Linked DNA regions of Homo sapiens. The protein of the gene in region 2 purifies or fractionates together with the protein of the main gene of each other region. This does not show direct contact. Each region holds a gene or a part of one and is shown on either strand. Other genes may lie near its edges. The genes, in order: KRABD3, ZNF738 and ZYG11A.

Region 1 (3,645 bases), on a different chromosome or scaffold from region 2:
CTTCTCAATTTCCACCTCTAAAAGGTGTGTCTGCTTTTATGAAAATCCCAACTGCTTCTGTGATAAAACACTGAAAGGAAATATGCAACCTGAAGTGCATTACAGGTGAGACTTCCTACCCATCACTCAAACACTGACCCTGGAAGGCTGTTTTCCCCAAGCTGGGGCTCTGGGTCCTGGCCCGTGCAGAGGGAATGGGGGAAGCCACCAGTTCACCTGCAACTCTGGGTCTTCCATGTCCAAGCTCCAGGCCTCTGGATGCTTCACTAACCCTGGGCCTTTTCTCCAGCTGAGAAACCGGGCAGGGATCCTGAGCTGTACCTATAGAAAGAGCACAGAGACCTTGGGGCAGGGAGACGATCGTTTGGCCAGAGCCATTCTGACATACCCTAAAACAATATCAAACTCTCAACTTTTAAACAATGATTAAATGAGATAGAAGACGGAAACTTGGCCCATGAGGGAGCCTAATTCTGGTGGCAGGGCCCGCCGCGGTGCGTGTGTGTGTGGTGTTCCTGCCCTGTATGCAGGGGGCTCCGGCAGGAGGAGGCGGCTGGGGAGGCAGCTGGGAAAAAGGACTCTCATCTGCGGGTCCTGCCCCAGTGAGACTTCCAAGGGCGTGCTGGGGCATCCTGTGGTCCACACCCAGCCCACTCTGCCATTTTCCACTAGGCCCACTGCGGAGTGAAGAATGTGGTGCAGCCTGGGTCTACACAGACCAGGGCCAATGCCTGTAAATGGAGCCAGCTGCAGGAGTTGGGGAGAGCTCCCTCCCCTGACCATTTCTGGCCTCTTCCTCCTTCTCCCCTGCTTCTCCCTCCTTCTACCACTGCTTCTCCCTCCTCGTCCTCGTCCTCCAGCACTCCTGAGGGGGCCAGGACAGCAGGTACTCTCTAAACTCTCTTTTCTCCCAGGCAACTGGGACCTGTCTCCTGTCCCATCTGCTTTTTCTGCTAGGAGCAAACAGTGGGTCACAGTGAGATTGAGAAGCAAGGTGGCCTGGGGCAATAGGCAGCATTCTAGCTTTCCTAATGGGACACTCTCCAAGAAGTACCCCCAGCTGGGGAAATCTCACTTTTGAGACTTTTGTTATTGATTGCCAAGTTTTAAAAGCATACGCTATTATTGTATAAATACATCCACATCTGTCTACATGCACACGTGTATATTAGCAAGCGCAAACACCGTGTACGTGGCATCAAGTGAGTGGCTCAGACCTCCCTGCAGCTGCTCACCAGCACCCCCAGCAGCCCCGCCCTCCTTCTCGGACACAGCTCACCTTACAGGGAACTAAAGCACGGCCAATGTGCAGGACTCCCTGGCAAGAGCCAGGCAAAGCGACAGGCAGGACTCAAAGGATCCAGTCTGGACTCCTGGTCCTCTGGGGAACGCATGGGCGCCCCCTCAGGAGACCCCAGGCTCACCTGCACCGAGGCCGCTGCAGTACCTGGGCTCTGTTCTCCTGGGGTCTTCACCAGGGCTGCCGCCACTGCTGCCAGCAGGGGTCCCACCAGGACATGGGGACAGAGGGACAGGAGGCTTACAGCTGGGAAGGCGGTCCCTCTCTAACGTCACAAACAAAGCTGGCATCAGAGTGGTGACTGGCGCCCTGGCACACATCCCGCTATCCTCCCTCTCCGCACAGGCTCACCCTGGGGGAGCGGCTTCCAGAGATCAGGCTCTGGCCTCGGGTCTTCTCCTTCAGAGCCGCTGAAGCTCGAGCTGGAGCCGGGGCTGGGGCTGGGGCTGGGGCCTCCCACGCAGGCGAAGCGCAAGGGCCTTACAGGCAAGATCCCCCTCAGGGCGCTCTCCAGGCAGTGCAGCGGGGAGGGCTTGGGGGCAGACCCTGGGCAGGGGACCAGAGAGTGCTCTGTCATCAGCCTGAAGAGAGCCAGGTCTCTGCCTTAGTGTCTGGGCACACAGAACCGGTCCCCTTTTCAGCTCAGCCCACGATCAGCATGCGTTCTAGTGGACCCTAAATGGCTGCCTCTCTTGCCAGAGAAAGAGGACAAAAGTGAAGCCAGAGCCTGGCCAGGACCCCAGCAGCTTTGGAAAGTCTGCTGGGGAACTTTCTGGAAGTCTCCAGTCCTTGGAAGCCATTAGCAGTCAGGTTCTAGCCAGGCCTAGGTCTCACAGGCCAGGCGGCTTCTCCCACCAGGCAGGTGCCATCCCTGCACCCCAGTATCTCACAGGGGCCAGCAGCCCAAGGGTGGGGCTCAGTTAGGGCCCATCCTCGTCTGATGGGAGGGTCAGCAAAACCGCATTTATTCAGCAAAGGCATCCCAGCAGGCCCTGCAGCAGATCTAGGAAGGAATTCTGCTGGAAGTTAAACCAAGCAGCAGCAGTGGACGGCGGGAGCCCCCTCAAGAAGCTTCTCCACTGGAGAAACCCAATGGATGGACACAAACAATGATCTTCCCGACCCCGCTCCTTGTCAGCACTTTGTGACACTTTATCTTCTTGTTTAGCGAACCTCAGTTTCTGTTTGGCACCAGCTTCTGTCCTCTGGGGAAAGGATGAGAGATGGGGAAGAAACAGAGGGACAGAGAGGGAAGTCTATTTCCTTGTCAAACACTTTAACTGAAGTGGGGCTGTCAGTACCGAGGGCAGGTGCCAGCTCACCCTCTGGGAGCCACCTCCACACTCCTGGCCTGGTGGCCCCAGGGTCTTTGAACCCCCGCTGGTGGCAGGCGGGGACGCAGCTGGAGGTGAACACCTGTGGGCTGACCAGATGGAGGCTCCGGGTGGGCGCTTCTCCCCTACCCTGCCCGAGACGGGCTGACTCGCAGGCCTCAGCCCTCAGTCCTGTTTTAATGAGAAATCAGAAGGCCTGTCAGCCCCACGGGGCCTCGTGCTGCCACAGAAGAAGGGACAGGGAACAGTTTCTGCCATTGCTGGGCTCTCAGGCACACCAGCATCAGGTGTGGGAAACACCCATCTGTCATGTTCCAGGGAGCGCCTGAACCCTCCAGAACATCTCTATTCCCAGACCCAGCTGCGTGGACCCCTGGGCTTGGAGACTGGTGCCCAGACACCAAGGCTCGTGGGGCTGGCACGGCCGGGACAAGGACACCCAGCCACAAGGAGCCAGCTCCAGCTGGGATGGTGGAACCGCAGACAGTGGCACTAAGGTGCCAGCAGGTCTACACGTGTGTGCTGCAGACTATCTGGCTTTCTGGCCTCCAACAAGGCTCTGCCCAGGTCTGTTTCCAGAGCACCATGTTGGCTCAGGAGCAGATCTGAGCCCACAGGTGCAGCGCCTAGGGCATCCTCAGAGCAGCCCTGTCTACACCCAGGGCCCCGGCAGCCACTATTACCTTCCTTGTCTGCTGTCCAGTTCCTGGGCTCTGCTCTCCTCGGTCCCCTGTCTGCTGCTGAGGAGCAGGGCCAGGCAGGCCGCAGCACAGGCACAGGTATCTCCTTGAGACAATTCTCCAGACCCTGCAGTGGGGAGCTTCCTGGTGGGCTTCCTGTGAAGATCAAACATTCACAGATGAGGGGGACTGTAGCTCAATCTCTGCAAACTGCAGAAGCCCCCTGTCTTCTGCTGTGTCCAGGGAAGGGGGGTCACAGGGGTGCTGGGCACAGAGCACTGGACGTGTCAGTCCTGGCTCTGGCGCGGCCCTGCTTTGGCTGCCGTGGAAG
Region 2 (4,250 bases):
GTTTTTTGTATTTTTAGTAGAGCATGTTTTTCAAGCTGGTCCCAAAGACAATTTTAACATATCAAGGGGTTACCTTTTCAAAATAAGAGTACTCCAGAAGATTCCTCTCAGCCCCAGGGTATCCACTTGCCCCCTTGACAGGATACACTCCATACCTCAGGTCGTCCTATGGGAGAAAATAAACCAGAAGCTGATATCCACTAGACACTCTAGCTGACATAACCATGGCAGATATCTCGGTTTATCCCCAGATAATACTGAAACCCAGGACCGGGAAAAAACTAAACGGTGGCTGAGGACACATCACCCCATAAATTTTCCAAAGCAGAACTCTGACCCAAAAAAATTCCGATAACATCTCTGTGCCTAGAAAGATAAAAGGAAAAGACACACAGAGATTTTTTGCAACACAGTGTCAGGGGATTATTATTTGCTTTCTTTTCATGGAAAATATTTACAAACAGATAACAAACCTTCTTAAAAGTACCATTGGTCTGGGTGTGGTGGCTCACGCCTGTAATCCCCACACTTTGGGAGGCCGAGGCGGGCGGATCACCTGAGGTCGGGAGTTCGAGACCAGCCTGACCAACATAGAGAAACCCTGTCTCTACTAAAAATAAAAAATTAGCCGGGCGTGGTGGCTGGCACATGCCTGTAATCCCAGCTACTCGGAGGCTGAGGCAGGAGAATCGCCTGAACCCGGGAGGCAGAAGTTGCGGTGAGCCGAGACCATGCCACTGTACTCCAGCCTGGGCAACAAGAGCAAAACTCCGTCTCAAAACAAAAAACAAACAAAAAAACCCCCAAAACACCATTTATGCAGGGCGCAGTGGCTCACGCCTGTAATCCCAGCACTTCGGGAGGCCAAGGCGGGCGGATCACCTGAGGTCGGGAGTTCATGACCAGCCTGACCAACATGGAGAAACCCTATCTCTTCTAAAAATACAAAATCAGCTGGGCGTGGTGGTGCATGCCTGTAAACCCAGCTACTTGGGAGGCTGAGGCATGAGAACCTCGTGAACCCGGAGGCGGAGGTTGTGGTGAGCCGAGAATGTGCCTTTGCAACAAGAGTGAAACTCCGTCTCAAAAAAAAAAGAAAAGAAAAAAGCACCATTTAATGCCTTGCCAAAAAATAATTAATTAAAATACGGTATAAAAAAGTACACTACAAAATAAGTGGCCAGGCCCGGTGGCTCACGCCTGTAATTCCAGCACTTTGGCAAGCTGATGCGGGCGGATCACCTGAGGTCAGGAGTTCGAGACCAGCCTGGCCAGCATGGTGAAACCCCCGTCTTTACAAAAACACAAAAATTAGCCAGGTATGATGGCGCGCACCTGTAATCCCAGCTACTAAGGAGGCTGAAGTGGGAGAATTGTTTAAAACCGGGAGGCGGAGGTTGAGGTGAGCCGAGATCGCGCCATTGCACTCCAGCCTGGGAGACAGAGCGAGACTCCATCTCAAAAACAAAACAAAACAAACAAAAAAACACAAATACGTGATAATGTGAATTAGGGAGGAAAAGCTGGCATTTGGGAACCCCAGAAGAAATTGGAAATTTAGTATCTTACTGCAAGCAAGAATGAGGTTGGAGTAATGAGGGATGGGGGTTAGACTTAAGACCCTGATTGGGACCCAGGTGAAAAATGCAGCAGAAAATCAGTTCCCTGTGGAGTGTGAAAATAATTAAGTGGCAGGCAATTAGACTGAGGTTTCTCTAGTCCCTGGGTTCCTACTTCAATTTAAAAAATCTAACTCAGGCGCATTATTTTTAATTACTAAATTCAGAGAAACAAAATTGAGGCTTCACCTACTATAAACTGCCAATTGAGCTCCGATTACATAACCAGGAAATTTTCACCTTTAATGTACAAATTAAAAAACCACGTAACTGTACCTAACCAATTACTAAATTTGGTTTTCTTCATCATGCATTTTACAAAAGACTTTCTTTCAAGCCTCTCCCATAGACCACAAACTAAAAACCACAGCTTGGTGCTCTACAATTCTAGAACCACTTTTTGATTAAATTATTTAATAAGTTAATTTTTTTTTTGAGACAAGAGTCTCGCTCTGTCGCCCAGGCTGGAGTGCAGTGGCACGATCTCGGCTCACTGCAAGCTCTGCCTCCTGGGTTCACGCCATTCTCCTGCCTCAGCCTCCTGAGTAGCTGGGACTACAGGCGCCCGCCACCACGCCCGGCTCATTTTTTGTATTTTTAGTAGAGACGGGGTTTCACCGTGTTAGCCAGGATGGTCTTGATCTCCTGACCTCTGATCCGCCCACCTCGGCCTTCCAAAGTGCTGGGATTACAGGCGTGAGCCACCGCGCCCAGCCTAGAACCACTCTTTGATTAAATTCTTTTAATATTTTTGCAGTGACTCCCATTAACTTTTAATAGGAGATAATAGGAACTGGGAACCCCACGGAACAAACCTCTTCCCATTCATGAACCCGCACCCCAAGTCAGGATTCTCCCCTGACGACCCTCCCACGGTCCCTGCACAATCCGGTAGAGAAGCGGCGCTGCGGGTGCAGAGATTCCCCAGAGAGGGCTCCAGGCAAGGGCACAGTCACTATGCAGGGAAGAGACAGGACGCCCGGGGGCCGGGCTGTCGGCGCAACCGCCATCTTATGGCTGAAGGCGACTGAGGCCGAGCTGGGCAAGGAGAACTCGGGGCGCAGATTGTAGAGCTGACTGCGGGGAGGCCTGAGTCTCGCCACAGCCACTTCCCACCGGTTCCAACCAGCCCTTCCCCTCTCTCGGGATGTTGGACCCCGCACTCTCACCATTTCTAGGCTTCCAGGGTGTCCCGGCGTCTTAGCTGTGGATTCCCAATACCTGCAGGTCACAGGACCAGAGGCTGGGCCTCTAGGAGCAGAGGACACAGAGCAGTGAAGACGAGACCCGGAGTTCCAGCGGCAGCCAAAGACAAAGAAGCGGACAAATCCCGCCACATCCCGGAAGCCGTCCTCTCCGCTCAAGCTGCGTGCCTGATTGGACAGTTCCCAGCCCAGCGTCGCTGATTGGATAACGTTTAAAACCCCACCCTCTCAGGCCCTGACTGACAGAAGATGTAATTAGATGCTGGGCTGAATGAAGAAAGAGTGACCGCCTAGGCTGCAGCCTTTTCAGGCAGGGCTTCCTCCTTGAGCTGAGATAGGCCCACCCCAAAGGGTATTTGCATTCAACCTTGCGTATAAGGTCATATGCATTTGTAAATACTATATCATATGGCTATACATAAATGAAAAGGATATAATAACAAATGTTTTAAAATTTCAGGGTTTTTTTACTTTCCTGGCTTACGGTCCTTTGAGCAGGCAGCCTGAGATTTTAAAAAGGAGGTAATCCTCTGAAATAAAATGTGAGCCACGTGAATTTTGAATTTTCTGGTAGCCAAACTAGAAAATTAAAAAGAAACAAGGGGCCAGGCATGGTGGCTCACGCCTGTAATCCTAGGACTTTAGGAGTACAAGGCGGGCAGATCAAGAGGTCAGGAGTTTGAGACCAGCCTGGCTAACATGGTGAAACCACGTCTCTACTAAAAATACAAAAATTAGCCGGGCGTGGTGGTGGACATCTGTAATCCCAGCTACGCAGGAGGCTGAGGCAGGAGAATTGCTTGAACCCGGGAGGCGGAGGAGGTTGCAGTGAGCAGAGATCGCGCCACTGCACTCCAGCCTGGGCGGACAGAGCGAGACTCCGTTTTGGGGGGTGAAAAATATAAAGAAACAAGAGGCCACGCGCAGTGGCTCACGCCTGTAATCCCAGCACTTTGGGAGGCCGAGGCTGGTGGATCACGAGATCAAGTGATTGAGACCCTCCTGGCAATATGGCTAAACCCTGTCTCTACTGAAAAAAATATAAAAATTAGCCAGGCGTGGTGGCGCATGCCTGTAATCCCAGCTACTGGGGAGGCTGAGGCAGGAGAATCGCTTGAACCCGGGAGGCAGAGGTTGCAGTGAGCCGAGATTGCGCCACTGCACTCCAGCCTAGTGACAGACTGCAACAACAGCAACAACAACAACAACAATAACAAGGAACAGGTTGAATTGATTGTAACAATGTAATTAACCTAATATATACAAAATATCATTTTAATGTGTGAGGAATATGTAATTATTAATGAAGTATATAAATATTTGCAACTAAATTTTTGAAAATAACTCTGTGTTTTACCTTTCTAGCATATCGCGGTTCAGACCAAGCACATTCCAGGCACCCAGGAGCCACACATGGCAGCTCTGA
Region 3 (3,645 bases), on a different chromosome or scaffold from region 2:
ACTTATGGTGTTGGTATTTACCTGGTATGCCTCCCTATACTGAATTCCTTGTGGTCACAGGTGTCTGATTACCTTACGTGCCTGTTACATAACATGGAATCTCACCATAGAAGATGTGTAGTAGGCCAGGTGCAGTGCCTGTAGTCCCAGCTACTTGGGAGGCTGAGGCAAGGGAATCGCTTGAACTTGGGAAGCGGAGGTTGCAGTGAGCCCCCACTGCACTCCAGCCTGGGTGACAGAGCAAGACTCCATCTCAAAAAAAAAAAAAAAAAAAAAAATATGTGTAGTAAATGAAAAATAGGACAACCCATTCGTTTTACAGATGAGGAAAATGAGGCCCAGAGAGGTAAGTGACTTGTCAAATATTATCTACTAATTTGGTTAAAAATAATATTAGTAGTGCTACTTGTATATTGTATATCCTGTACTTATCTACCTATTTTATTTTGTTCTTCCTTTCTGTGAGCAAGGTTACTGTAGATAAAATTTTGGGCTCTACAGCCAAACTGGGGTTGACTCCTGATTCTGATGGTGACCTTGGATAAATTACTTAACCTATTCAAGTTTCAGTTTCCTCAGCTACATAGTAGTAGTAACAATAATTCCTTTATAGTATTAATGCAAAGAATACATGAGATAATAATCTTATTAAAGGAGTTTAGAACAATGCTAGCACAGAGCAGTAAATGTTGTCATTATTGTTATTATTAACATCTGTCTTAATTCTTTGCCACATTTTATCCTGGAAAGACATGAGATCTAGTTGTCATTACAAGTTGGTTCTGGTTCTTTCATAGGCAAGCTGACTGACAGAACAGCCAGCATTTTCCGAGGCAACCAAATGAAACTGAAGCTGGTCAATATCCAAAAAGCTAAAATCTCTACAGCTGCATTCATAAAAGCCTTCTGCCGTCATAAGCTCATTGAACTGAATGCTACTGCAGTGCACGCTGACCTCCCAGTTCCAGACATCATAAGTGGACTCTGCAGCAATAGGTGGATCCAGCAAAACCTCCAGTGTCTCCTGTTAGACTCGACAAGCATCCCTCAAAATTCAAGATTACTGTTCTTTAGTCAGCTCACTGGTCTTCGCATTTTAAGTGTTTTTAATGTTTGTTTTCATACTGAAGACCTGGCTAATGTTTCTCAGTTACCAAGACTGGAAAGCTTAGATATCTCTAATACTCTAGTCACTGATATTTCTGCACTGCTTACCTGTAAGGATCGATTGAAGTCTCTCACAATGCACTATCTGAAATGCCTGGCCATGACCAAATCACAAATTCTTGCAGTCATTAGAGAACTTAAATGTCTGCTTCACCTTGATATTTCTGATCACAGGCAACTCAAATCAGACCTAGCTTTTCATTTGCTACAGCAGAAGGATATCCTGCCCAATGTTGTGTCATTGGATATTTCTGGGGGCAATTGCATCACTGATGAAGCTGTAGAACTGTTTATACGACTGCGGCCTGCCATGCAATTTGTGGGACTATTGGCCACGGATGCTGGCTCTTCTGACTTCTTTACTACAAAGCAAGGCTTGAGGGTTTGTTCTTATCTGAATAAGTTTTGTTTCATTTGTTTAGAACATTATTAAACTCGTGCTATAGACCAGACTTTTTACTAGGTATTAGGGTTACAGAGACAGATAAAAAAATCCTTAAAGAGCTTTTTTAATAATTAATGATTATTATGTACCTACTATGTGGAAGGTTGTGAGAATATTATTATTATTTTTTGAGATGGAGTAGTTTTGTATTTTTAATAGAGATTGGGTTTCTTCATGTTGGTCAGGCTGGTCTCGAACGCCTGACCTCAGGTGATCTGCTTGCCTCGGCTTCCCAAAGTGCTGGGATCATAGGCATGAGCCACTGTGCCTGGCCACACGTGAGAATATAATATTAAGATACAGGCTGGGCATGGTGGCTCACACCTGTAATCCCAGCACTTTGGGAGGCCAAGGCGGGCAGATCACTTGAGGTCAGGAGTCCGAGACCAGCCTGGCCAACATGGTGAAACCTGGTCTCTACTAAAAATACAAAAATTAGCCGGTGTGTTGGCGGGCGCCTGTAGTCCCAGCTACTTGGGAGGCTGAGGCAGGAGAATCACTTGAACCTGGGAGGTGGAGGTTGCACCACTGCACTCCAGCCTGGCCAAAAGCGAAACGCAGTCTCAAAAAAAAAAGAAGATATAGTGGGTTCAAGTGATTCTCCTGCCTCGGCTTCCCGAGTAGCTGGGACTACAGGCACGTGCCACCATGCCCAGCTAGTTTTTTATTTTTAGTAGAGACGGGGTTTCACCATGTTGGCCGGGCTGGTCTCGAACTCCTAACCTCAGGTGATCCGCCTGCCTCGGCCTCCCAAAGTGCTGGGATTATAGGCATGAACCACTGCGCCCGGCCCGATTATTATTATTATTTTTTTTTGGAGACTGAGTTGTGCTCTTGTTGCCCAGGGTGGAGTGCAATGGCGCAATCTCGGCTCACTGCAACCTTCGCCTCCCGGGTTCAAGCGATTCTCCTGCCTCAGCTTCCCGAATAGCTGGGATTACAGGTGTGCACCACCACACCTGGCTAATTTTTTGTATTTTTAGTAGAGGCAGAGTTTCACTATGTTGGTCAGGCTGGTCTCGAACTCCCAGACCTCAGGTGATCCACCTGCCTTGGGCTCCCAAAGTGCTGGGATTACAGGCATGAGCCACCATGCTTGGCCCAGAGCTGTTGTTTTAAAGTAACTCTTTCTTTATAATAATACCTCCTTAGTTCTTCCTAGGGGAAGAGAATAAAGTGATTTGTATACTCATTAGTTGTGTTAACATTTTATTCTTTTGATTTGAAGTTAGCAATTGTTGTATTTTAATTAATTAATTAATTAATTTTTTATTGAGACAGAGTCACTCTGTTGTTCAGGATGGAGTGCAGTGGCACAATCTTGGCTCACTGCAACCTCTGCTGTGAGCTGAGATCCCCAAATTTTTTTTGGGACAGTCGAGTCCTGCTCTGTCGCCCAGGCTGGAGTGCAGTGGTCCGATCTTGGCTCACCACCAAGGATTATCTCTTCCCCCCTTGGATAAACTTGGCATCTTTGTTGAAAATCGGGTGTCCGTATATGTGTGAGTCTGTTACTGGGCTCTTTATTTTTTATTTTTTTTGAGACGGAGTCTTGCTCTGTCGCCCAGGCTGGAGTGCAGTGACACGATCTCTGCTCACTGCAATCTCCGCCTCCCGGGTTCACGCCATTCTCCTGCCTCAGGCTCCAGAGTAGCTGGGACTATAGGCACCCACCACCACGCCTGGCTAATTTTTTGTATTTTTAGTAGAGATGGTGTTTCACCGTGTTAGCCAGGATAGTCTCGATCTCCTGACCTCGTGATCTGCCTGCCTCATCCTTCCAAAGTGCTAGGATTACAGGTGTGAGCCACCACGCCCAGCTGGGCTCTTTATTTTTATCTGTTTGTGTATTGCCTTTTTTTTTTTTTTTTTTTTTTTTTTTTGAGACAGAGTCTCGGTCTGTCACCCAGGCTGGAGTGCAGTGGTGTGATCTCGGCTCACTGCAACCTCTGCCTCCCGGGTTCAAGTGATTCTCCTGGCTCAGCCTCCCTAGTAGCTGGGACTATAGGCGTGCACCACCACGCCCATCTAAT

The links.
Region 1: the proteins of ZNF738 (region 2) and KRABD3 purify together in Homo sapiens (affinity purification with mass spectrometry; one large-scale study listed by BioGRID and IntAct). This does not show direct contact.
Region 3: the proteins of ZNF738 (region 2) and ZYG11A purify together in Homo sapiens (affinity purification with mass spectrometry; one large-scale study listed by BioGRID and IntAct). This does not show direct contact.

The regions. Positions count from the first base shown.
Region 1 is NC_000007.14:149,728,348-149,731,992, reverse strand, and holds part of KRABD3 (protein KRBA1), read right to left. Parts: intron 3,471-3,645; coding exon 3,318-3,470; intron 2,806-3,317; coding exon 2,623-2,805; intron 2,506-2,622; coding exon of another isoform or gene 2,465-2,505; exon of another isoform or gene 2,242-2,464; intron 1,847-2,241; coding exon 1,652-1,846; intron 1,566-1,651; coding exon 1,425-1,565; exon of another isoform or gene 1,280-1,424; intron 322-1,279; coding exon 217-321; intron 1-216.
Region 2 is NC_000019.10:21,357,682-21,361,931, reverse strand, and holds the start of ZNF738 (zinc finger protein 738), read right to left. Parts: upstream 2,933-4,250; 5' UTR 2,792-2,932; coding exon 2,789-2,791; intron 167-2,788; coding exon 74-166; intron 1-73. UniProt on the Homo sapiens protein: May be involved in transcriptional regulation.
Region 3 is NC_000001.11:52,856,201-52,859,845, forward strand, and holds part of ZYG11A (protein zyg-11 homolog A), read left to right. Parts: intron 1-797; coding exon 798-1,549; intron 1,550-3,645. UniProt on the Homo sapiens protein: Probably acts as a target recruitment subunit in an E3 ubiquitin ligase complex ZYGA-CUL2-elongin BC.